Homo sapiens: one gene and its partners. The protein of the gene in region 1 purifies or fractionates together with the protein of each later gene. This does not show direct contact. Each region holds a gene or a part of one and is shown on either strand. Other genes may lie near its edges.

Region 1 (3,500 bases):
AGTCCCAAGTATCTACTCAAATATTACTTCCTTAGAGGGGCCTTCTTTGATTATTACCTCCATCTAAATCAATTCTTCTTACCATCTTGCTGTGTCCCTTCTATCTCTTTCTATAACTTATCTCTGTCTGACATTACAACATATATTTATTTATTTAATTATTTATTGTCTATCGCCCACAGAATGCAATTCCATGAGGCCAGACACTTGGTCTGTCTTATCTTTGCTTTAATCCAAGTGCTTAGAGCAGTGATTGGCACAAACCAGGTATTCAACAATTATTGCCAAATAAATGAGTAAAAGGGAGATGTGACTAATTTTTGAACTGGGGTCATCCTAAGATCTTCAAAGGGTATCATCTTCATGTACTAAATTTCCTACATTAAGAAAAGATTTACAAATATAAAATTAGTCAGATTTCATTTGGCCTGAGGAGTTTAGGATGAAAGGGAGATGAAAAGATTTTTATTGGTGTTGAAATTTTAGATTTTTCCAATGTCTTGCAGGAAGGTTGGGGAAAGGCCAAGAGATCAGTCAGTAGAGGTGAATTTATAGAGTCATTAGAAGATGCCAATGAGAATAAAAATGAGGCTGATTCTGTTCTTGGTTCTTCCCTTGGGCCAGGTTGCAGTGAGAGCAGATGCTGGCAAGAAGCACTTACCAGACAAGCAGGATCACAAGGCCTCCCTGGACTCAATGCTTGGGGGTCTGGAGCAGGAATTGCAGGACCTTGGCATTGCCACAGTGCCCAAGGGCCATTGTGCATCCTGCCAGAAACCGATTGCTGGGAAGGTGAGATGGGCTGAAATTTTGGTCCTACAGCCTTCTTTGTCTCTCTCTGTCTCATCAAGGTTTGCTCTTTCCCCTTATATTTTAAGATATTTTAGTTAGCATTAATAATTACTAATCACTTACAGTGCTCTGGCCACTGAGCTAAGTGCTTTACAAGTATTTCCTCATTTAATGGTCACATCAGCCCTTCAAGAAGAATGATTGCTCCCTTTGTAAAGATGAGGAAACTGAGGACTCAGAGACATTAATGGACATATCCAAGGCATAATAAGAGGTAGAGGTAAGATCTGAAACCAGGAGACTGTCTCCTGAGTTTGAGTTCTTGACCATTTTTCTGTACTGCCTTTACTGAGATGACCTTTCTCACTGCTCCCTTTGTTCACACATTCCCAGTCTAAATTGATTGATTACAATTTTCAGCTGAACTCAGCTCCAAGTCACAGCTGCAAACTCCTGTTCTGCATCGTCCTTCACCGAAGCTATGATAAAAAGCTTTGAGACCTGACTGCATGGGGCGTGGAATAAAGTGTTCAAACTAGAGGAATAAAAACTGTCATTTGGCCTTTTCCTCTTCCAGGGGTCCCTTCCACACTAAGGCTACAGTTACAACTTCTCTGTCATCAATGTGCTATATGTTGTTTCTGCCACCCCCTGTGGCAGTGCAGTGGTTGTGAACATTTACAGGCTTTCATCACAGTGATCAGTCCCGGAAGTGGGCATCCTTTTATTATCAATCCATAAAGCACAGACCACAGATGGCCTTAGGTGGAACCTAGGTCTAGGCCTCAGTGTTGTATAATTCCAGGGCGTGTTGTCTACAAGGGGTACAATGTGAAGAGTGCTCCCTAGAGTTGTGCAACCTGTAGGCTGTAGAGCACTCAACTGGCCTCCTGTGTCAGGCTTTATTTCACTCCACAGGTGATCCATGCTCTAGGGCAATCATGGCATCCTGAGCATTTTGTCTGTACTCATTGCAAAGAAGAGATTGGCTCCAGTCCCTTCTTTGAGCGGAGTGGCTTGGCCTACTGCCCCAACGACTACCACCAACTTTTTTCTCCACGCTGTGCTTACTGCGCTGCTCCCATCCTGGATGTAAGTAAATCCCCGCTCCTCTCCAGCTTTCAGTCACTCACTTAGAACCAGAGTCATGCTTTACAACTTCTGCATCATTATAATATCTGTGTGTTCCCTTTCCAGAAAGTGCTGACAGCAATGAACCAGACCTGGCACCCAGAGCACTTCTTCTGCTCTCACTGCGGAGAGGTGTTTGGTGCAGAAGGTATGACCCGACTTGAGAGGCTGTATCCCACACCCCAGTGGGTAGTTATAAGACCAGCAACACCTTTCCTGGTAGTCACGGGAGTCCTGGTTCCTATCAGTACTATCAAAGTGCCCATTTCAGTACTAGATACCATCCCTCCCTACCTTTCTCCAACATTTATAATTTCCCTTTAAATTGATTTTTTAAATCACAGAAATACAAATGCATAGTTTAAAAACTCAAATATTACTTCAAGGGTAATATTGAAAAAGCCTTTTCTTGTTGAATATTGAAAAAGTCCCTTTCTCATCTCCAAATCCAGTTCTCCTCTCCAAATTATTTTAGCTGTTTCTTCTGATATTTACTTATTTTTTGTTGTTGTTGTTGTTTGTTTTTTTGAGACGGAGTCTCACTGTGTTGCCCAGGCTGGAGTGCAGTGGTGCGATCTCTGGTGCGATCTCCGCCCACTGCAACCTCCACCTCCTGGGTTCAAGCGATTCTCCTGCCTCAGCCTCCCAAGTAGCTGGGACTACAGGCACTTGCCACCACACCCGGTTAATTTTTGTATTTTTAGTAGGGACAATGTTTCACCATATTGGCCAGGCTGGTCTTGAACTCCTGACCTCGTGATCCGCCCGCCTTGGCCTCCCAAAGTGCTGGCATTACAGGCATGAACTACTGCGCCTGGCCTGCTTATGTGTTTTAAATAATAACTTTATATTGTTATAGATTGTTTTATTTTTCCAGTTTTAACCATTATGTATTGACTGTCTAAGAGGGAAGATGAGGTTTAGAAATGTTATTATTACCCCACTCACTCCTAACATATTTCCCCTCCCCTGTTTTTTCAATATATAATTATGTCATAATTACAGGTTAGATCAGTATTAAGTGTGCATATGTTGACAATCATAGAATACTGCTCACAAGTAAGCCATGTAGCAAACTGACTACACTAGAGTCTGGATTTTAGAGTCAGACTTCCAGGTTCAAATCTGGGTTGTGGTATTTGTTCAAGTCATTTAACATCTCTGTACCTTACTTTCCTCATCAGTAAAATAGTCCTAATGAAATTGCCTACCTTATAGGGTTGTTATGAGGATTTAGAGACAATACAAGCGTGGTATTTAGAATAGTGCCAAGCACATGGAGGTATAGTAGTGTTAATATTATTATCACAGTGTCCTTTTGGTATAAATTCATTTTTTTCTAAAGTTAACATTTGAATCCTTTTTGAAATTGGCTTAGTTTTTATTGTACTTATCACTAAGTTATGCAACAGAACTGTGAAATTCTTTTCAAAATGGCCAACTACATCTGGCAACAAGTCAGTTTCTTTCTTTTCTTTTTTTTTTTTCTGGAGATATCCCTCCAGGAGACTTTCCTCCTCCTGATTCAACATGAAATGATTTCTTCCTGCTGAGTAGCAGTCATTCTGGTTCATTAA
Region 2 (3,500 bases), on another chromosome or scaffold:
TGCCTCTGGAGCCAGCTCAACAAATTTCTGGGTGTTTCTCACATGCCAAGCACTGAGGAATGTGATGAACAAGGCAAATTCTGCCCCCAAAGAAATTTACACATGAACCGGGAAAGATCTCGATAGTCGAGTGTCAGTGACGTGGGGTGGGGGGGGTGGTGTCTATGGAACCACGGAAGTAGGTGCATACCCCAGTAGCAGGTGCATACCCCGGTGTGTGGCTGACAAAGAGGAAGTATCAGGGCATACCAGGAAGGGGTTCAGGTGGAGAAGGCAGTACAGTCTATTTCAACTGACAAGGTAGAAAAGAGGGGAGGAATACAGAAGAACATTTAAGGGGACGAGCGGCACCATTGAGGAGCCAGAGGAAATCTACTGAAGTTCTGGGTGCTAGTAGTAAAGGAGTGATGTGAGAGCTTAGAGAATGCACACTGGGCTAAACGCATGTAAGAGGTGTGGCTGTGAAGCAAGCAGGGCATTCCAATCATGCAGAGCCTGGTAAACCACCAGAAGGTTCACCTGGATCCAAGGACAATGGGGAGTCATTCAATATGTTTAAGCAAGCAATGGCTACCTTCAATTTTTGCTGTAGACCAGCCTCTCTGGTCCTGAACAAGAGTCACCACAAACCAGATACTGTGAATTCTCTAATGATTCCCCATCTCTAGCAAATAGGAAGCACTGTAAAAGACTGTCATGACCTTTAAAATTTCAGCTTTTGGCTGGGCATGGTAGCTCACACCTGTAATCCTAGCACTTTGGGAGGCAGAGGTGGGTGGATCACTTTAGGCCAGGAGTTCTGAGACCAGCCTGGACAACATGGTAAACACCACCTCCACTAAAAATACAAAACTAGGTGGGCATGGTGGCGCATGCCTGTAGTCCCAGCTAGTAGGGAGGCTGAGGCATGAGAATCACTTGAACCTGGGGGGCAGAGGTTGCAGTGAACTGAGATCGCACCACTGCACTCCAGTCTGGGTAATAAAGCTGTCACACACACACAAAAAAAACAAACGGTTTTTAAAAATTAAGTACAAATAGAGTATATGAAACACATAGAAGATACTTACAAATGTGAAAAAACTCGTAAATGCTGAAGAAATAGGAGAATGGCCTCTTTAAGAAGACTTGTGTACAGTTAGACCTAACTGTGAGGTCATATTTTCCTCAAAGTTGTGTCTAAAGTTGTGTGTTTCCATAAGAATCTAAGAAATACTTTTCTAAACGGGGGGAAAAAAGACATCACACTCTCATCGTCACATTTATAAAGGCAATATCGATTTGTAGCTTCAGAGTCTGACAAAAGTCTTAAAAATTGAAAATAACATATTAGACTTCCAGAGTAAATAATCCAAAATATACAACATCAACTATATGGCAGATTTTATTGGTTAATGAAACCATTACACTGTTGATGTTTAAAATAGCCAGGTTTTCTAATCATGCCAGACCAACATATTTTTCTATTATAACTTCAAAACACCTTGTACTTCTGTATTTCCCTTAACTTCTACAATAAAGGATTAATTTTACAGTCAGAGAGACACTTAAATATCAGTGATTTATTATAGGCCTTGATTTCCAAACCAAACACATACCAAAGGTCTGAAACTGCCTGGAAGAGGTACACACCCTAGAGAACCACCTGAGGCCCTGCTTATACACGGAGAATGCCAGCAACTAGCTGAGAACTTTGAAGCCATCCAATTACTGCCCACAATTGCATTTCCTCACCTTCTCTAAGACCACCACCCCACAATAACCCTCACTACACTGAATCATATAATCCACAATCACATTCTCACTCATAGGACAAACCAACAGATCTGGCCTAACATACAAAAGCTACTCAAAAAGGTGACTATGCATTTGTTTATTTCCCCTACTCCAAAAAAAAGAAATTATGATCTGTAATCAGTAGCCTGATTCCCCTGCTGACTTCATGGGGAAAATTGAATAATCACTCAAAATATTCTATTCCACTTTTAAGCCCCAAATAAAATGGCCTAGGGCAGGCTATAACTCACAGGTGCACTGGGCGCTTGTGGACACGACTGAAAGACTGCTTACTGTTGATTGTCTCCCACAGATGATGTTTACCACTATTATACAGATACTGAGAACACAGGCCCATGAAACTAGTCGTTCATTAAATGGGTAGTTTGACCAGAATAGCCGCTTACATACCAGAAGAGACCATTGGTTAAGAGCTTCTATTAGCCTTTGGACTTGGCTTTAAAAAGGGCATAACAGAGATATTACTATACACCTATTGGAATGGTCAAAATCTAGAACACTGACTACAGCAAATGTTGGTGAGCAACAGTAACTCTTTTTTTTTTTTTTTTTTTTTTTGAGATGAAGTCTGGCTCTGTCACCCAGACTGGAGTGCAGTGGTGCGACATTGGCTCACTGCAACCTCCACCTCCTGGGTTCACGCCATTCTCCTGCCTCAGCCTCCAAAGAGGCTGGGATTACAGGCATGCAACACCATCCCCAGCTAATTTTTCTGTATTTTTTTCAGTAGAGATGGGGTTTCACCATGTTGGCCAGGCTGGTCTCGAACTCTTGACCTGAGGTGATCCGCCTGCCTTGGCCTCCCCAAAGTGCTGGGATTACAGGCATGAGCCACCGCGCCCGGCCCCGCCAAAGCAACTCTTATTCACTGTTGGTGGGAATGAAAAACGATGCAGCCACTTTGGAAGACAGTTTGGCAATTTCTTATAAAACTAAACATACTCTTACCATATAATTCAGCAATCATGCTCTTTGGAATTTACCCAAATGAACTGATATCTTTCCAGACAAAACCCTTCATATGAATATTTCCAGCAGCTTTATTCATAATTGCCAAAAGGTGGAAACAACCAAGATGCCCTACAGGAGGTGAAGAGATAAATTATGATACATCCAAACAATGAAATACTATTTAACTCTGAACAGAAAACAAGATATAGGAGTTGGGGAACATGGAAGAAACTTAAATGCATTTACTAAGTGAAAAGTCTGCATACTGTATGATTCCAACTATATGACATTCTGGAAAAGGCAAAACTAAGGAGAGAGTAAAAAAAATCAGTGGTTGCCAGGAGTTTGCAGGGAGGGAAAGATGAACAGAGCGTGGAAGACTTCCAGGGCAGAAAAACTCTGCGTAATACTATAATGGTGGACACATGTCATTATACATTTGTCTAAACTCATAGAATATACAAGACCAAGTAAACTCTAGACTTTGGGTGATAATGATGTATCAACGTAGGTTCACTGACTATAACAAATGGACCACTATGATGAAAGATGTTGATGGTGGAGGAGGCTGTGCCCGTGTGAAGGCAGGGGTTACGTGGGAAATCTCTGTACTTTATGTTCAGTGTTACGTGAAGATAAAAGTGCTCTAAAAAAATAAAGTCTATTAAAAAACAAAACAAGTCGGGGGAAAAAAAGAGCCCGGCTCTTCCCCAGGGTGTGGCAAAAAGGCAATGTGTCTTCCTGAACTTGCT
Region 3 (3,500 bases), on another chromosome or scaffold:
TGTCAGCTGCATTGCTCACTTAATGCTACCTACTAGAGACACATCTTTATGTATTACCATGTTTATACTTGTTCTTTTATCAGTTCCTGCTGAAGAATAAACAAAAGCAAGGGTACACACCTATTCTGTATTATATCTAACGGCAATTATCTTAAGTTTCAATTTTTGGGACACATGGTGTCCAAAAGCAGGGCCCCTTGGTGAAGGAAGTGTTTGGGTTCATTCCAATCCAAAATGCTATGATTCCAAGGACTGACCACTGACAAACATTTTCCTTTGCTTTACATTCTCCTATACATAAATTGCTCTGCCAAATACAAAGCAGCTCATACTAAATTGGGTATCCAAGCTGCATAATATTTGACTCAAATTTCATAAACGCTCAAAATTTTAAGACACATAAAAATGTAGCAGAGATTCATGGTCCGCAAGTGGTTATACTGCTGACGAATCCTAAAGGTACAAACCTGGTAGGCAGATACAGGAGATGCAATATAGGGTGTAATAGAAGTTTGAGTGATCATTCGGTTTGTAGCAATACTGTATGGTGAAGGATAAAATCTAGAACAAACACAAAAGCCTTTATTAAGTAATCCTTTAAATAGAATAATTCATGGAACAAATGTCTGATATTTTCCACCTTCACATTTTCCCTCAAGCCATTATGGATTTATTTTAACGACATACCCGTTCTGTATAGCAGCTGTAGTTGGGTCGTAAGTAAGTGTCATTCCAGCCTATGGGAAAGAGAAAGAAATATAAACATTCATCTAGAAAGGCATGATTTAAAAATTCTATTTTTAGCCAGGTGTGGTGGTGTGCACCTGTAGTCCCAGCTGCTGGGGAGGCTGAGGTGGGAAGATCCTTTTGAAGCCCAGGAGTTCGAGGCTGTAGTTAGCTATGATTACATCACTGCACTCCAGCCTGGGCAACAGAAGGAGACCCCTGTCTCTTAAAAAAAAAGGGGAGGGAGGGGAATTTGTACTTAGAGTCTAGTAGCATTTGATAAAATTGGGAGTTTCTGTTAGTCAAAATGACTATAAATATGAAAATTAATCTCTGGACCTGCACTGTCCCATGTGATAGTCATAAGCCACATGCAGCTATTTAAAACTACATAAAAAATCAATCTCTCTAGCATACTAGCTACGTTTCAAGTGCTCAGAGAGCCACCTGTGGCTGGTGGCTGTTATTGGACAGTGCAGATTCTAGAACATTTTCCCTAGACATTCTTGGATCAATATGTTATTGTTTTTAAAATAATAATTCATGGAAAGTCAATACAGGGAAATGGACGTCCAACATTTTATTACGAAATTGAGAGTTTTAATTAAAAAAAAAACTATTCAAAAGAGAGGTGAAAAAAACCCCAACTCAGTGATAAATGTACTATTTATATATAAATATTTAGATTACTATTTAGGATAACTTCTAAATATTATAAATATAAACCCCTCTAAGAAACCATGCTAGCCTGGGCAACATAGTTAGATCCTATCTCTATAAAAATTTTAAAAAATTAGGCCGAGCACGATGGTTCACGCCTGTAATCCCAGCACTTTGGGAGGCTGAGGTGGGTGGATCATGAGGCCAGGAGATTGAGACCATCCCGACTAACACGGTGAAACCCCATCTCTAGTAAAAATACAAAAAATTAGCCGCGCATGGTGGTGGGTGCCTGTAGTCCCAGCTACTTGGGAGGCTGAGGCAGGAGAATGGCATGAACCCAGGAGGCAGAGCTTGCAGTGAGCGGAGATCGTGCCACTGCCCTCCAGCCTGAGCGACAGAGCAAGACTCCATCTCAAAAATAAAAAATAAATAAAAAAATAAAAATTTTTAAAAATTAGCCAGGAGTGGTGGCATGTCCCTGTCGTCTCAGCTACATAGGAGGCTGAGGTGGGAGGACTGCTTGAGCACAGGAGTTCAAGGTTGTGGTAGGCTATAACCACACCACTGGACTCCAGCCTGGGCAACAGAGACCATGTTTCTTCCTTTCTTTTTTTTTTTTTTTTATTTTGTTTTTTTTTTTTGAGATGGAGTCTCGCTCTGTTGCCCAGGCTGGAGTGCAGTGGCATGATCTTGGAACACTGCAGCCTCTGCCTCCCGGGCTGCAGCGATTCTCCTGCCTCAGCCTCCCAGGTAGCTGGGATTACAGGCATGGACCACCACGCAGGGCTAATTTTTGTATTTTTAGTAGAGACGGGGTTTCGCCATGTTGGCCAGGCTGATCTCTAACTCCTGATCTCAGGTGATCTGCCTGCCTTGGCCTCCCAAAGTGCTAGGATTATAGGTGTGAGCCACCGCGCCTAGCCTACAGAAACCCTGTTTCTGAAAAAAACCAAAAACAAACCCAAATCACTTGTGTTTTTCTTATGGCAATTTAGAATGCTCTTTTACTTCATGTGTAGCTAGCTGGTAAACACAGCTGCTTCCACCACCTATCGGTCCATCTGGAGAATCACTCTGTTATCACCATATATAATGAAAAGAATTTTAATTTGGCATCACTTGAATTATAATGTACCGAAAGGAAGATTTAATCCTGGCACCTATTTCAGAAGTGTGCAGCCAAGTCAAGATGCCTTTTTGTGTTACTTTTCATGTGGGCATTCAAGATCACACCCCCTCCCCCACCCCGCAAAGTTTCAAGAAAGGACTTACAAGTCTCACCTCTCCTTCTCTATGCCATGGTCTTCCATTAGGGATGTATTTGTTTGGGTTCTGTCTCTTTTTCTGTCCTCCATCAGCAAACTTACACAATAAAGGTTCTGTGGGGGCTAAGTAAACAGAGAAAAATAAAATGAAACCACAATGATACGTGTATGTGGATGACAAAATGTATTACAAAAATAGGAATAGTGTTCACGCTATTAGAAAATTCATACAACACTTTAAGGCAAAAGCAGTTTACTCAGACCTTTGTAAAACTGTCCACGATGAAAAACATAGTGCAGAAAAACATACTAGTTATTATTTCTGAACATTTAAATAACTATTCTGAGGAAGCAAAGGAATCTTTCGATTCACTTTCACACTTAAGAGTAGACACATTTCTTTTGGTTTTGGGCCCTCTCCAATTCCACCTCTGGACCGTCACCAAAATAATCTTCAAATTCAATAGGATTGTGCCATCCTCCCCTCCCCCAACTTAAAATGGTCCCTTAGCGTCCCATTATAATTCCTAAGAGGGACCCTTCACTTCTCCCAGTAGAAAACAAGCCACCTCTACACTGCTCGCACATATATTTTTATTCACAATTTGTAACAATTGGTGAGTATGTTTACTTGCTTGGTGTCTGTTTCCCCTTCTAGGCTATACGCCCCATGGGGGCAGTAACATTGTCTGTTTTGTCTATCACTGTATCCCCAGTGCCTAAGTGTCTGGACTTTGTAGTTGCTTATTACATCTTGGTTGCATCAGTGAATGAATAGAAATAGGTCTCATATGTTTATTTTTGGGATACGTCAGTGAAGATGGCTGTTGTGAGAAAGCTAAAAAT
Region 4 (3,500 bases), on another chromosome or scaffold:
CCATGTCTGTGTTTAGCTGAGTAACTGCTATCATTTAGAACAGTAAAATTTTTATAGATTTCAAATTTGAAAATTCATGTACACTCAGTTATCTAATAAGGGGCCACCGACGCTGTTTTTAAAACTATTTTGAAGTTATAAAAAGGTAGAACATCTGACTGATGATGTTCACATAAAGAGACAGACAGACTATCATGTTGCAGACATGAAAACAGCATGTCAGGTTTTTCCTTTCCTTCCATGCCATGGGCTACCCATCTCTTCCCACTAGATCACCTGGTGAGGAGGGAGCACCTGGCTGACTCATGCAGAGTTTGGCCAATCAGAGAATTGTGTGGTCTCCAGCTCTACTTTCCTTAAACAAATCCTTTCTGTTTTCTGAGCTGCAGTGCTAAAACAGATCCCTAAAAGGTAATAGCATCTTCCAGACTAGTTTAATTATTTCCTTTATAAGAATATGACATAAATTTTTATTATAGAAATAATGTCATTATAATTTTAGTGCTAGTACTTGTGGGTTTTCTGTATTTGTATCACCTTGAAATTTGTTCCATGAATAGAAAATACTTCTTTATTCATGTTTTCAATCACTTAGAATTATTTTAAATTTATTTTGGGTTTGTGAGAGATAATAAGATTAAGAACTTCATCATTTCAGTGACTTTCCTCCAACTCTCTGAATCTGCTACCTCTTATTATATGTCCCTTAGCAGTACTTTTCCAGTTAGGTTCGTTACCCTGCTCATTAGCTAAACCTCTTTATCTTGTGCCTCAAAAGAGCTTTTACTTTTCTTAGAAACATTTATAAAAAAGAAAAAAACTGACACGCATTCATTCAAAAAAGTATTTATTGGGCTTTAGGGATTAGATACACAACAGTGGAAAAATGGCATCTTAGCACACTCAGAATTTATTGTGCAGCAGTTGTGTATTTTAAGGAATCTGTAGTTAAAAGGAAGAGATCCAAAGGTCCTGATAACATTTCCTAACGTTTCAGAAGAGTTGTCATTGAGTAGTGTTTGGATTTCCTCTCTGTATCCCTCACCCTACCATTTTCTCCTTTATTCTTCTAAGATTGTTAGCGTTGTTACTCAAAACATACACATACAACATACCAGATGGTGCTGTTCTAATGGTATTTGTTCACGTAATTTAACGTTCTTACTGCTTATACTATATACATATTTAATTTTGTTGGGAGCAAGAAGGTTTTCAAGAAAAGATAATTTTGTATTAGTGTAGGAATATATTAGACAAATGTTTAGTTGGTCAAATTATGCATAAGATATTTGTAACTTTAAACATTGCAAATTGACCAGCTAGCTATGGAAGCATAAAATTAATTGATAATTAATGTTGGAAATACATTTCTAAAATTTATATTTTTATGGTGTTAGCCTGTAAGAGCATTTTAGCATATTGAAATGCATGCTGCTTAAGATGTGTCTGGTTCAAATATCAAAACTTGCTGGGTCATTTTTACATAGTAGAAACATACTGTCTATGTGTTGCCCAATTGCTGTTTGTCCACTCTGAATTCTGGACCCTTTTTGGACTAAGAATTAGTTAAATTCATGAACTAAGAGAATTAGAGATGGGGTAGAGTAGGATCAGGACAGTGGGGTTACAACAGATAGGAAAGGAAAGTCAGCATTTGAGTGTAGAGAAAAAAAGAGGATCATACAGATGTCATCAAATTATAGGCTTTAATACAGGTTGCTTTTTTTAATCCAAAAGGAAAAGCACTTATCCTATCAGAATGTCTACCATGTTTTATAGTAATAATTTGTGTAAAAAATTGAATTTTTGAATAGTTTTTTGTATTTTTTGTGATGAAAAACTCATAACATAAAATTTACCATATTAACTGTTTCTAAAGAATACAGTTCAGCCATGTGAAGTACATTTACACTGTTGTGAAGCAGATCTCCAGAACTTTTTCATCTTGCAAAACTGAAACTCCATACCCATTAAACAACTCCCCTTTTTGTTTTCTCCTCAGTGGAATAGAATTTTGACTCCATATAAATCAAGAAACACCTAAATTCTTTAGTTGTTTGTGTTTGCAAGATCTAAGGTCATGGTAAACATTAAGTTCTTAAAATTTTTGGGAGGGACAGTGCACCTCTCCTCTGAATTGTTAGCAATTAAATTGAGTAGGTTTTAAATGTCTATTCATTGGAAGGGTTTGTTATTTCATTTTGAGCCAGAGGGGAGAGGCACATTTTAAATATCAGAATTAGATTAGCTTTGAGTTTGTACAATTGGGAACATAATAGATTTTCATAAATTATGTGTGCCTTGTTGGAAGTGTCAACTGTCTTTATGTCTGCTTGTAAAAGTTTCAAAATATGTTTTCCCTCAAAAAGGCAACGTTACTTCATTTGCTTGAATATTATGATAGGAATGCTTACTGATATTACTTGATAGTCATATATAGCCTAGGAAATTTAACATATATATAACTATAGCAGTATTAATAATGATAGTTGTACTTCTTTAAAACATTAAATTTGAGGAAACTTTAATGCTGTCTCGTGTACATTGCTTTACTACAGTGAGGGGGAATATCCTTTAGATTGAGCCTCAATTTACTGGTTAGTAGTATGTGAAACTCTGGTATAAAAACGTAAACTAGACAGTAGAGCCGATGAATTAAAATTGTAAATTGCTACATTGGCATTTTCTACCTCCTTTTCTGTCAGAGTATTACTTTTTCCAGCATTTATTCTTATTTGTGAGTAAAGAGGAAATGGGAACCTGAGGTTAAAATTGACATTTTTGTTTCATTGAGAATTTAAGCAGTAGGTACAGGAGAAGTGACTTGTCACATTAATTTGGTGCCTAAATCTGTAACTACAAGTTGTGATCGACATGTACAAAATGTCTAAGAAAGGTCATATGCTGAATATTTTACTTTTCCTGTATAGTCTGCATGATTTGTTTCATAAACCCAGCTTATTTCCTCCAAAAAGCAAAATGGTCCTGTAATTTTTAAAGTAAAATAAACGTGCCATTTTGTCTGCAATCTATAATTTCAGGAAGTTATTGAAAGTTCTGACTCAGGGCTTTTTAACAGTTCAAGCAATTGTCAGTTATATTTTGGAAACTCCATCTGTGTAATTCTCCAGTGCCTTGAAAGAATTATTAACTTGGCAACACTATTAAAACTTTATAAAAGATGGTCTTTAGTGCACGTGTATCATTATATACACGTTTTAAAGTCATATTGCTTAGCTTGTTAATAATGATTCTGCATGTGTGCTGGGTTTGGGTAATTCTTTAAAGGAAGTTTTCTAGATTTGCACTTGATGTTTGTTTTTTAAAAACTGATTATTTATGGCCGTGACACTGTTACCAGAAAAGTAATTCTAATTAAGTTATTATGCAAAGTCATCTATAAGTAGCATCTGGGAAGAGGAGATCGAGGCCACAGTTTGCTATTTTAGTATGAAAGGAGGATCTGTTTGGGAAACATAGATTGTCTTCCCCTCAAATGA
Region 5 (3,500 bases), on another chromosome or scaffold:
GTTCACACACACACACATCCCTGTAACCTTCATAAGTAACCACCATTCACAGAGCACACAGCGATGGCCCCCCCAAAAAGAGCAGCAGGCATCTCCGCCTGCCACAGGCCCTGGCTCTCTCCCAGAAAGGTGTGTCAGTGGAACCAGCCCGTCTGGGACCTCCTAAACTGGCTTTTTTCACTTTTTGGGTTTTTTTTCTGAGACAGGGCCTTGCTGCATCTCCCAGGCTGGAGTGCAGTGGAGCAGTCACAGCTCACTTCAGCCTTGACCTCCCAGGTTCAGGGATCCTCCTGCCTCAGCCTCCTGACCTGCAGTGGTGTCAGCAGCAACCTGTGCACGTCCTCCCGTACACTCTTAAGTCATCTCTAAGATCACTTGCAGCACCTCATTCAGTGTAAATGCCACGTAAATAGTTGTCATCCTGTATTGTTTAGGGTGTAGGGGCAAGAAAAGAAGCACACGTTTGGTACAGACACATCGTTTTTTCTGAATATTTTTCACCCACAGTTGGTTGAATCCATGGATGTGGAACCCACAGCTGTCGAGAGTTGACTGTGCTTGTAGTTACCAGTGGTTGGCATTTCTAGGACCGGAGAATATGAGAGTGTTTAAGGCTTAAAGCTTTGAATTTGGGGTGATTTTACAAAGAATTGGTTTTCTGTTTCTGTTAAAATGTACCTTTTTTGCAATCATACTTCAGCAAGTGGCATGTCGTAATTACTCCATGTTAATTCTTTGGCTGATCACAGCACGGCGTAACCTAGGCCCTGCTGAGGGGGTGCTGAAGTTGAGGAGGGGCCAGGTGTGGTGTGGTCAGCCTGGCCTCCCCGCACATGGCCTTCTCCCTCACCTGCCCCCGGCTGCGTCTCTAAGATGCTCTTGTTGACGAGCAGCTCTGTAGACAGCGCTGGCTGTGCTTCCTTACAGAGGTCGGAAAGGTCTGCTTGGAAGCCAGACGAAACGGCTCCACAGAGTTCCCTGAGGCGCCCAGACCCCGGCCGGCTTCCACCAGCTGCCAGCGAGGAAGCACACACCAGCAATGTCAAGGTAGGAACGGTGCCACGAGTATAGAACTTTGGTGCTTTTTTAAGTCCTGGGTTTGCAAATTGCAGGCAAAGCATTTTTGTGACCACAAGGTTCTCGTCTGCCGGGTGTAGCAGTCACATCACTAAAGGAAAGGACGTTCACAGAATAAACTTCGGCTTGAATTTTGTTTTAATTGTGCACAAATACTGAGTTTCTGTGCTTGTTAAGCGTGGAACGTGGAAGGCTTTGACAAAGTCAGCAAATGGCGGCCTCTGCAGCCTGAGGGAGGCCTGGCCCAGGGGCTTGCCGGGATTCGGCCCAAGATCTGCTGCAGTCTCCTGATGGCACACGGTCCCCACCCCGTGACGTCCATCTCATGCCCAGTTTGGACCTTACCTAAGGGGTGAAATGCAAGAAGCTTCATAGGGGCTCATTTGATGATGCTGTGGAGAGGAGCTTGTGGTCCTAGATCTTGTCTGACAAACACAAATTGATCTTCCAACAGCAAGGTTGTTTCTGGCCACAGATACTGTTGGAAGGCCGATGGCTCTGTGATGATTTGATGGGAAAAAACAATCTGACTCTTTGGAAAGAGCAATGGTGTTAATGTGCTTTTGTCAGCAAGACAGTCTTTGTTTCCTATGATAAAATTTTACTGCTTTTTTTCTTTTAGATGGAAAAATTGTACCTGCATTACTTGAGAGCAGAGAGCTTTAGAAAAGCTCTGATTTATCAAAAGAAGTATCTTTTGCTGTTGATTGGTGGATTCCAGGATTCTGAACAAGAAACACTCTCCATGATTGCCCATTTGGGGGTATTTCCTTCCAAAGCAGAACGGAAAATCACATCTCGTCCTTTCACCAGGTTCCGCACGGCCGTCAGGGTGGTCATTGCAATATTAAGGTAAATGCCATGACGTTCAGTCAGTGCGTTCCGCGTCTGTCTCCGTGAGTGGGCAGCACACTGCATGGTTTTTTGGTCATTTTATTCCTTGAAACTCCATAATATGTTCTTTTTAAAGATGAATGGCATTTGAGGCCTTAGAGAAAATACAGATGATGAACTTGTCTTCAAGAAGTCATGTGTATGAATCTCTCACCTTCTAAAACTAAAGATTTAAGGGCACCTTTGTATTACAGAGGAACATCTTGACTTTTAATGGGTTTCGTGCCACAAAGAACGTGCTGAATTTCTAAAACTGTTTTTCCCCCTAAACACTGTGCGGCTGTGCCTGCTCCCTGATGCCACAGAGGTGTTTCCCAAGGCCACGCGCGGGCCTGTCTGGAGTAGCAGATGCAGCAGAGAGCAGCTAGGAATCCCGCTCCTTTCAGAGACCAGGTGCCGAGCCAGTTCAGTCATCGCGGCTGCAGGCTGGGCCAAAGTGGGGTGCAGGCGAGGCCTCCTGGGTTGCTGTACTCTCAGCTTCTCTGGTCCTGGGGCACTTTGTCTCCTCGTCTCTGAGCTCCCCTGACCGTAGGCCTCCACCGTCCATCCTTCCACCCACCCATCTGTCCATCCTGTGTTCATGGGGAGAACACCCTGCAGGAGGAAGCATTTTAGGCACTAGATAGGGGAGGTAAGCAGACCCAGATCCTACCTCCTGTCGAGGAGGGGAGATCTTTTGAAGGCAGTGGTGTCCCAGAAAGGAGCAGTCTCTGTGTCCCTGTGAGGGCACTGCCTAGGGTAGCTGCCACCAAGGGGCCTTGACAGGTCTTATGGAGGAATCGGCAGTGTCTGCTATGCCTCAAAGGAGGGAAGCCACAGGCATGATGCTTGTTCCGAAGGCCATCCTAGCAGGGCGTCTGGGGCCCTGCACACTGACCTGCATGCCCTCGTCACCTGCACTCTGCATGCTCACCATCTGACGGACTCCTGCGAGGGCTGGGGTCTCCGTGTTCTGAGCCTGTCCAGTGGCATCTGTGACAGGATGAAGATGGGAGGGTCCTGCACACCAGGCGGGAGCGGCATGTGTTTCCTAGTCACTGGTGTGGCCGGCTGACTTTGAACTGGAGTCGTCCTGAGCTGGGCCATGGTGGGTGTCTAGGGGACCATATGGTCCACGGTGGGGCCGCAGTGAGGCTTTGTCAGGTGGTTGGGCATGGGAAGGTCGCCGCCGCCGGCAGCCCTGCGAGCACTTTGGATGTGTGCACCCGGCATGCCAGGCCCGAGTCAACAGACTGGCCGACCTTGGCGTCCTGGTCCCCATGGGCAGCGAGGCCCCCATTCTGCTTGTTTGGTCACAGTGGGGTTTTCATTGCTCTTTCCCTTCCTGTCTTGCCGTACTTTTAAGTGTGTCTTGTCTCTTTTTTTTGTAGATTACGTTTTTTGGTTAAGAAATGGCAAGAAGTAGATCGGAAAGGAGCTCTGGCACAAGGCAAAGCCCCTCGCCCAGGTGGGACTCCAGCTGCTGTTGACCGCTGGACTCACAAACCTTTCTTTCTACTCTTGTTTTTCATTCACTTTGGGTCATTTTT
Region 6 (3,500 bases), on another chromosome or scaffold:
ATTGCCAGGTTCCAGACTTATATTTTCAAGGATGTTTATCTAGTGAACAGTCTTGGATGACAGAGATAGTGTCTGTCTCTGGAGCAAAAGTCAGGCAGGCTTACTGCCCATTATCAAATACCAGGGTCCCCTAAGCATGGGGGTTCCTCTTGTAATGCAGCCCACTGCGTGTGCAGGTCTCACCTGGCCCTCTTCTTGGGGCCTGGGGCTCAGGGAACCAGTGTAAATGCTGATAATCTGGCCACTGCTATTGCTATAATAAACTGTCCTTTGTCTCTGACCTATGAGTCTCATAACTTCTGCCAGGATCCATGAACCCATGTGGTGTGCTCACTTTATTAGCCTGCAAGTAGGGTAAAATCTCATACCCTTCACAGGTTTGCTACCTATGTGGTACTTTTAAGAATCCAGAGCTGTAAAAGAAGACAAAGTCCAGGTAGCAAAAAACAGTTTGCTGACTCCACACACAGAAAAGACCCAGGAAATATAATGTTCAAGGAGCACTTTAATAGTCAACAAATTGATGCAGTTTTGTCACAATACTTTGCATAATTTTATAGTAACAGTAAAATTCTGAATCACTTTATAGTAAAAGAAAAGACACAGAGGAAAATAATTTCCCTGTACAATGAAATTTTCATACACTATATGAAGATTTCCCACATCTGTCAAGTTTTGGCTCAGAATAAAAGATAGCTAATATATTTCACTCTTTTTTCTGTTACTTTTTTTTTTTTTTTTGAGACAGTGTTTCGCTCTGTTGCCCAGGTCGGAGTGCAATGGCACCATCTCGGCTCACTGCAACCTCTGCCTCCCAGGTTCAAGCGATTCTCCTGCCTCAACCTCTCAGGTAGCTGGGATTACAGGCGTGCGCCACCAAACCCAGCTAATTTTGTATTTTTAGTAGAGACAGTGTTTCACCATGTTGGTCAGGCTGGTCTCTAACTCCTGACCTTAAGTGATCCACCCGCCTCAGCCTCTCAAAGTGCTGGGATTACAGGCGTGAGCCACGGCGCCTGGGATTACAGGCATGAGCCACTGTGCCTGGCCTTTTCTATTACCTTTAAAAGTTACTTCACATAGTAAAGAAATTAGGACTGATTCTTGGCATAAAGGAGGGTACAAAAAAAAATTGTGCCAGGTACAGTGGCTAATGGCCATAATCCCAACACTTTGGGAGGCGGAAGTGGGCAGATCACTTGAGCCCAGGAGTTCCAGACCATCCTGGGCAACATGGTGAAACTCGTCTCTATTAAAAATACAAAAATTAGCCAGGCGTAGCCAGTCATACACGCCTGTGGTCCCGGCTACTCGGGAGGCTGAGGTGGGAGGATCACTTGAGCCCAGTAGGTGGAGGCTGCAGTGAGCTGAGATCGCGCCACTGCACTCCAGCCTGGGCAACAGAGTGAGGCCCTGTCTCAAAAAAAAAAAGAAAAGAAAAGAAAATTTGGTTTCCTGGCAGATAGAGTTTTAACAAGCGCATCAAGCAGTAATAATTTGTGGTCTTGTGCTCAATTCTCACACATGATCTTTGCAAGCGTCCCAGCAGCCATCACAGCTCTACTTTCACATGCATGGGACACAGCACAGAGCAGCAGCCTTGAAAGGACTGCAAAGAGGTGTGAATTCCAAACATTCTCTTAAGTCCTAACATTTCTGTTCTTCATTTTGTGTGACAGAAGCCCATGGAAACAAGGCGATGACGGCGCTTGAGGGTGACCAGACCTCCTCAATCATTCCATCAGCCACCCAGGACTCAACAGCAGAACCTCAGAGGACTCAGCTGAAAGAGGTTTTCACTCGAGCACTAACCACAGAGAAATGGGAAGTGCCATCCTGCTGTCATACGCAGCCGATGGCTGGGTAGGACTAAATGCCCTTCTGTGGTGAGATGAACCAAGACGGCAGATGGGGGAATAACATCAGTGAGAGAGAGATTACGAATGGATCCTTGTATTGCAGATCAAACTGGGTTGTCTCTTCTCAAACCACCCAGGCAGTTTCTGAATGTCCCAAGATAGGGGTAGGAGAAAAGAAAAAAAAGACAAAACAGGAGACGGTGGGTAAGAAAACCTAAAAGGCACAATGAGGCAAAGGCCTAAGATGGAGGCTGGCTTTGGGATCTGAAATCCGGCCACAATCCTCCTTGTTTTACCTCAAGTCCAAGAATTGTCAAAAAGAAAACCCAGAAGGGCTATTCATTCTAAATTTTAAAATCTTTTCTTCCTGGCCTACCAAGTCCTTGTGTTTTCTTTCTAGGCGCCCATAAATACAACCCCATTACAGTTCTATTTGGCTAATAATTTACAGAACATTTAAAATACCGGGTAGGTGAACATCTCTTCATGGCTTTTGTGTAAGGGCCTGAAGCGAAGAGAAAAACAACTGATTGGAGATTCCTATCTGGCGCCTTCTCCAGGGAAACTGACAACCAGAGAAATCTGTTGCTAGGATTTCTAGGACATCTGGAAATTCCCTTTTTGTTCTTTCTCAACAATATAAAATGGTATATTCGCAAACCTATCTGAATCACCTCAATCTAGGCCACTTTGAAAATTTCATTTAAAAATGTAATCACAGATTTTTAAACTAATTACCCAATTTGCAAACAAATCCCAGCTACTTCTGGTCTTGAACATGGAGCAAAGGTGTGTCAGTAAGGCCAACATTCTTAGGTTGACAGAGACAGGTTAACACATTGGCTGGCTTCATTTACCCCCCTGCCACGCCCCACACTGAGCTGGATGATTTGATGGGAAGAGAGGGTCCCCACCTCAGGGTTCACTTCCCCAGCCCCAGCGTTCATGGGTTTTCAGGAGGCTCAGCCTGTGAAAAAGAACCAATGATGATGCACACCCTGGCTGAAGTGACATCTGGCCAAAGGATTCCAACAGAATGAATTCCATCAACATGGAAAAGATAATCCATGGCACCAATTCTGTGCTGCTTACAGGCAATGGTTACCAAATGAGTCAAAACATGGCCTAGAAGTGGAGCCGGGCCCAATGAAAAGCCTGAGTTCACACGTGCTAGGGGCTCCACTGACCGGCCTCTGCAGCCCAGCACCCAGTCCTCTTGCTCTGGGTGCAAGGTGAGGAGGCAGAGTGCACACACCGGCTCCTGTGTCCCCGGCCTGGCTGGCAATGGTAAAATGGGCTGCCTTTCTTTTGCAGCTTCTTCTAATCGAAATACCAAAGGGTACTGACCTCTGGCCTCAGGGATGTGACTTGCAGTGCAAATTTTACCTCTTCAGTGCAGAGAGTGGTCTTGAAATCTTGCCAGTGTGTGGCCCTCCCTCAGCTCCTGCCACCCTGGGGAGCCAGGATGCTGAAATGCATAAGGCAAAAGCACTGAATCGGATCTATTCCCCACTGACCTTTAGTTACGATCACTCTGCCCTGACCAGCTGGAGTTGGGCCTGTGTGAAGCCAGTGATTTCCAACACACTGAAGAAGGTATCTGAGTCCAGTGTGAAAGCCAAATTCCTCCTGAATCTGTGA
Region 7 (3,500 bases), on another chromosome or scaffold:
TTCGAGATCAGCCTGGCCAGCATGCTGAAACCCTGTCTCTACTAAAAATACAAAAAAAAAAATTGGCTGGGCATGGTGGCAGGCACCTGTAATCCCGCTACCCGGGAGGCTGAGGCAGGAGAATCACTTAAACCTGGGAGGCAGAGGTTGCTGTGAGCCGAGACCATGCCACTGCACTCCAATCTGGGTAACAGGGCAAGACTCTGTCTCAAAAAAAAAAAAAAAAAAAAGTGCTCACTGTAAAATTATTTAAATTTTTCTTTATTAATAAAGTCCTTGAAAAATAAATCTATAGGTTAGTCTTGAATATCATTTAAATGGCCAAAGATCAGTCATCTTTCCTTCTTTTTCCAAAGTACTTTTATTAACTGTGAAGCACAATACTCTGTTCCACAGAGGATAAAATGGGTGAATAACAAAACTCTGCCTTCCCAGAATTTACTCTCTTGGAAAAGATGATTCATAAATGCCTGAAAGAGTTCAAGGAGGCAAGACCATATGGGATTCATTGCCAAAATAGATAATTGGTCTTAAAAAGCATATATAGGGTTTCTTCATTGTGGTCCAAATCATTTAAGAAATTTCTTCAGCTGGTCTTGAAGAATGGGTTGGATTTGAATGTGTGAAGGGAGAGCTGAAGCATTCCAGGTAAGAGGAAAGGCAGGAGTCAAGATCAGGAGGCAGGGAGGGACAAAGTGTGTTCAGCACAGCAGGAGACCTGACTGGAAAGAACAGAGTGGGTCTGGGAATAACAGCAGGAGTACAGTATTGCATGGTGCTTCATTATTTCACAGAGCACTAAAAAAGAAAAGAGTTCAGCCAATTAAATTATGGTGTATCATCAATTGTAGGACATTTCCTGATTTCACAGATACTAAAAAATGAAAATAAGATGTGCCTCTCACAAATCAAAGCTGTGTGGTAGGTTGAAGGGTGTTGTGAGTGCCTTGAATGGTGGGGAGAGAAGCTGGCTGAAACTATCAGGTTGGTGCAAAAGTAATTGCAGTTTTTGCCATTACTTTTAAGGACAAAAACCACAAAATATACTTGATCTTGGACGAGAGCCCTGGGTAAATGATACTTATTATCACTTACCTTGGAATTTTCGCACTTGTACCTTGCATATAATAATCTCAATATAATTTGTATCCTTGTTGCTGAAAGGATTCTAAGCAGCCTAAGTATTTATTTCATGGATGTTGAAAGGTAAACTTAATATTTTCTGTTGTGCAAATTGAAGATAAGGAGGCAGAAGTAGCTGCAGGCGTGAGCTGTGCGTTAGGTTGGCGTGTCTCTCACTGATTTGAAGCCTTTGAAGTGGTTACTAGACTCTTATCCAGAGTCAGACTGGCTGCATCAGCATCACCTAGGGGAAGGACCTTCTTCAACATATTGGCCCCTGGCCCCATCCTGTCCCCATTGATTCAGAATTTCCAAGGGTGGGGCCTGCACATGGTATATTTCTAGAAATGCGCTAGTTAATTTTTGAGAACTTCTACCGTAAACCATTGATTAATTTCATTTTTTTACCTCATTAAATTAAGTCATTCTGTATCCTTCCCTCTCATAAGTCTTTGAATTTCTTATTAAATATTCTATTTTGGCCTTAATAAAGGAAAGGCGATAGTTCAGATGGTGAAAACAGTTTATAAAAGTGGGATGCAAAGTAGACTTCAGAAATCTACCTACCACAAGAAGGTTGATGATTCTCAAAAGTCTTGTGTGATAAACTGCTCAGGTGTCTCAGGAGACGTCTTTGTACTCCATTTTAAAGTCAGTGAATAGTGAGCAATATAAATGGTACTTTGTTTTCTCTTGGTAGGCAAGGAGGGCACCATGAGCTGGCAGAGCGCCTCGTGGAAATACAGTATGAGCTAACGGACAGACTAGCCTTCTATCTCTGTGGCAGGAAACCAGGTGAGTGGATGGAGAATGACCGTTTCACATCTCCAGTTGGGAAGGTTCTAGAAAAACAAGTTGGGACACTATTTGTTATTACCTCCTCTGCTGTAACATATCACTGAGAAAGCTATACATATGGCTTTTAATTTGAAAGGATAACTACAGAATTGTCAGTTACATGTAAAAGATATAAAGTTGGACAAAACTCCTTAGATTTTTCATTTTTAATAGCTCTAGAGAAATGACTATTTCAAGAATCAGACTGAATAATCAAAGCAAAATTGAATGGGTACCACAGTTCTTGAACATGGTGGGACTAGGAATGTAGGAGCAAAGCAATAACCTTTGTAGTTATTTGAAAAATTCTTCTTAAGGAATGGAAAAAAAGTCCAGAAGTAAACTTTGCCAAAGCCAACTTGGCTATTTGTGATAGGGAACAGGGGTCAGCAAACCATGGTTTGTAGCCCAAATCTAGCCAGTTACTTGTTTTATTAAACAAAGTTTTGTATCGTGCCACTGCACTTCAGCCTAGGTGACAGAGTCAGACTCTGTCTCAAAATAAATAAATAAAAATAAATAAATAAATAAATAAAGCTTCTGCCGGGTGCAACGGGTCATGTCTGTAATCCTAGCACTTTGGGAGGCCGAGGCAGAAAGACTGCTTGCACCTAGGAATTCGAAAGTAGCCTGGGCAAGAGGGGTGAGACTCCGTCTCCACAAAAAAGTTTTTTAAAAAATCAGCCAGGCATGGTGGTGTGCGCCTGTAGTCCCACGTACTTGGGAGACTGGGACTTGAGCCCAGGAATTCAGGGTGGCAGTGAGCTATGATTGTGCCACTGCACTCCAGCCTGGGTGCAGTGACAAAGCAAGACCCCCAACTCTCTAAAAAATAAATGAATAAAGTTTTATTGCAAGAAAGCCGCGCCCAATTATTTATACCTTGTGTATGGCTGCTTTCACATAACAACAGCAGAGTTGAATAGGTTAAGTCGTTGCAACAGGCCAGATGGCCACAAAGCCTAAAATATTTACTATTTGGCCCTTTAAAGAAAATATTGGCCAACCCCTGATGTACAACATTCACATACATGTATGCAGTGATTCTCCATCCTGGTTGTATGATAGAGTTAAGAGCCTCTGGTATAGTTTCAGTTCTGGGTGAGATGGAGTAAGCACACCCCACCGTGTCTCCTGCAAAATAGAACTAACAGACCTGGACCAAATGCTTGGAGTAGCTAGCTAAAGACTCTGAAAAGTAAATCCTGGTTGGTAGATTAGGGAACTCAAAAGTGTCATCAGCTGGTGGTGAGTGTCCTGTTTGTCTTACTTCTGATAGGACTTCAATGACAGCCTGAAACCTGGAGGTACATAATGAGTGCAAAAAAGCCTTTTTCTGCGGGGTGCGGTGGCTCACGCCTGTAATCCCAGCACTTTGGGAGGCTGAGGTGGGCGGATCATGAGGTCAGGAGATCCAGATCATCCTGGCCAACATGGTGAAACCCTGTCTCTACTAAAAATACAAAAAAATTAGCTGGGCATGGTGGCAGGCGCCTATAGTCCCAGCTACTCGGGAGGCTGAGGCAGAATTGCTTGAACCC

Evidence for each region.
Region 2: the proteins of LPXN (region 1) and CCDC6 purify together in Homo sapiens (co-immunoprecipitation; 3 studies listed by BioGRID and IntAct, with this or other methods). This does not show direct contact.
Region 3: the proteins of LPXN (region 1) and RBMS1 purify together in Homo sapiens (co-immunoprecipitation; 3 studies listed by BioGRID and IntAct, with this or other methods). This does not show direct contact.
Region 4: the proteins of LPXN (region 1) and MIB1 purify together in Homo sapiens (co-immunoprecipitation; 3 studies listed by BioGRID and IntAct, with this or other methods). This does not show direct contact.
Region 5: the proteins of LPXN (region 1) and PCNT purify together in Homo sapiens (co-immunoprecipitation; 3 studies listed by BioGRID and IntAct, with this or other methods). This does not show direct contact.
Region 6: the proteins of LPXN (region 1) and LIMD1 purify together in Homo sapiens (affinity purification with mass spectrometry; 2 studies listed by BioGRID and IntAct, with this or other methods). This does not show direct contact.
Region 7: the proteins of LPXN (region 1) and GIT2 purify together in Homo sapiens (co-immunoprecipitation; 3 studies listed by BioGRID and IntAct, with this or other methods). This does not show direct contact.

Annotation. Positions count from the first base shown.
Region 1 is NC_000011.10:58,548,357-58,551,856, reverse strand, and holds part of LPXN (leupaxin), read left to right. Parts: intron 1-624; coding exon 625-792; intron 793-976; coding exon of another isoform or gene 977-1,060; exon of another isoform or gene 1,061-1,704; intron 1,705-1,710; coding exon 1,711-1,884; intron 1,885-1,989; coding exon 1,990-2,071; intron 2,072-3,500. UniProt on the Homo sapiens protein: Transcriptional coactivator for androgen receptor (AR) and serum response factor (SRF). Contributes to the regulation of cell adhesion, spreading and cell migration and acts as a negative regulator in integrin-mediated cell adhesion events.
Region 2 is NC_000010.11:59,900,057-59,903,556, forward strand, and holds part of CCDC6 (coiled-coil domain-containing protein 6), read right to left. Parts: intron 1-3,500.
Region 3 is NC_000002.12:160,284,308-160,287,807, forward strand, and holds part of RBMS1 (RNA-binding motif, single-stranded-interacting protein 1), read right to left. Parts: intron 2,778-3,500; coding exon 2,662-2,777; intron 738-2,661; coding exon 688-737; intron 562-687; coding exon 468-561; intron 1-467.
Region 4 is NC_000018.10:21,866,292-21,869,791, forward strand, and holds part of MIB1 (E3 ubiquitin-protein ligase MIB1), read left to right. Parts: 3' UTR 1-3,500. UniProt on the Homo sapiens protein: E3 ubiquitin-protein ligase that mediates ubiquitination of Delta receptors, which act as ligands of Notch proteins.
Region 5 is NC_000021.9:46,439,156-46,442,655, forward strand, and holds part of PCNT (pericentrin), read left to right. Parts: intron 1-927; coding exon 928-1,047; intron 1,048-1,699; coding exon 1,700-1,929; intron 1,930-3,341; coding exon 3,342-3,418; intron 3,419-3,500. UniProt on the Homo sapiens protein: Integral component of the filamentous matrix of the centrosome involved in the initial establishment of organized microtubule arrays in both mitosis and meiosis. Plays a role, together with DISC1, in the microtubule network formation.
Region 6 is NC_000003.12:45,678,251-45,681,750, reverse strand, and holds part of LIMD1 (LIM domain-containing protein 1), read right to left. Parts: 3' UTR 1-3,500. UniProt on the Homo sapiens protein: Adapter or scaffold protein which participates in the assembly of numerous protein complexes and is involved in several cellular processes such as cell fate determination, cytoskeletal organization, repression of gene transcription, cell-cell adhesion, cell differentiation, proliferation and migration.
Region 7 is NC_000012.12:109,979,369-109,982,868, reverse strand, and holds part of GIT2 (ARF GTPase-activating protein GIT2), read left to right. Parts: intron 1-342; exon of another isoform or gene 343-798; intron 799-1,689; exon of another isoform or gene 1,690-1,822; coding exon 1,823-1,917; exon of another isoform or gene 1,918-1,964; intron 1,965-3,500. UniProt on the Homo sapiens protein: GTPase-activating protein for ADP ribosylation factor family members, including ARF1.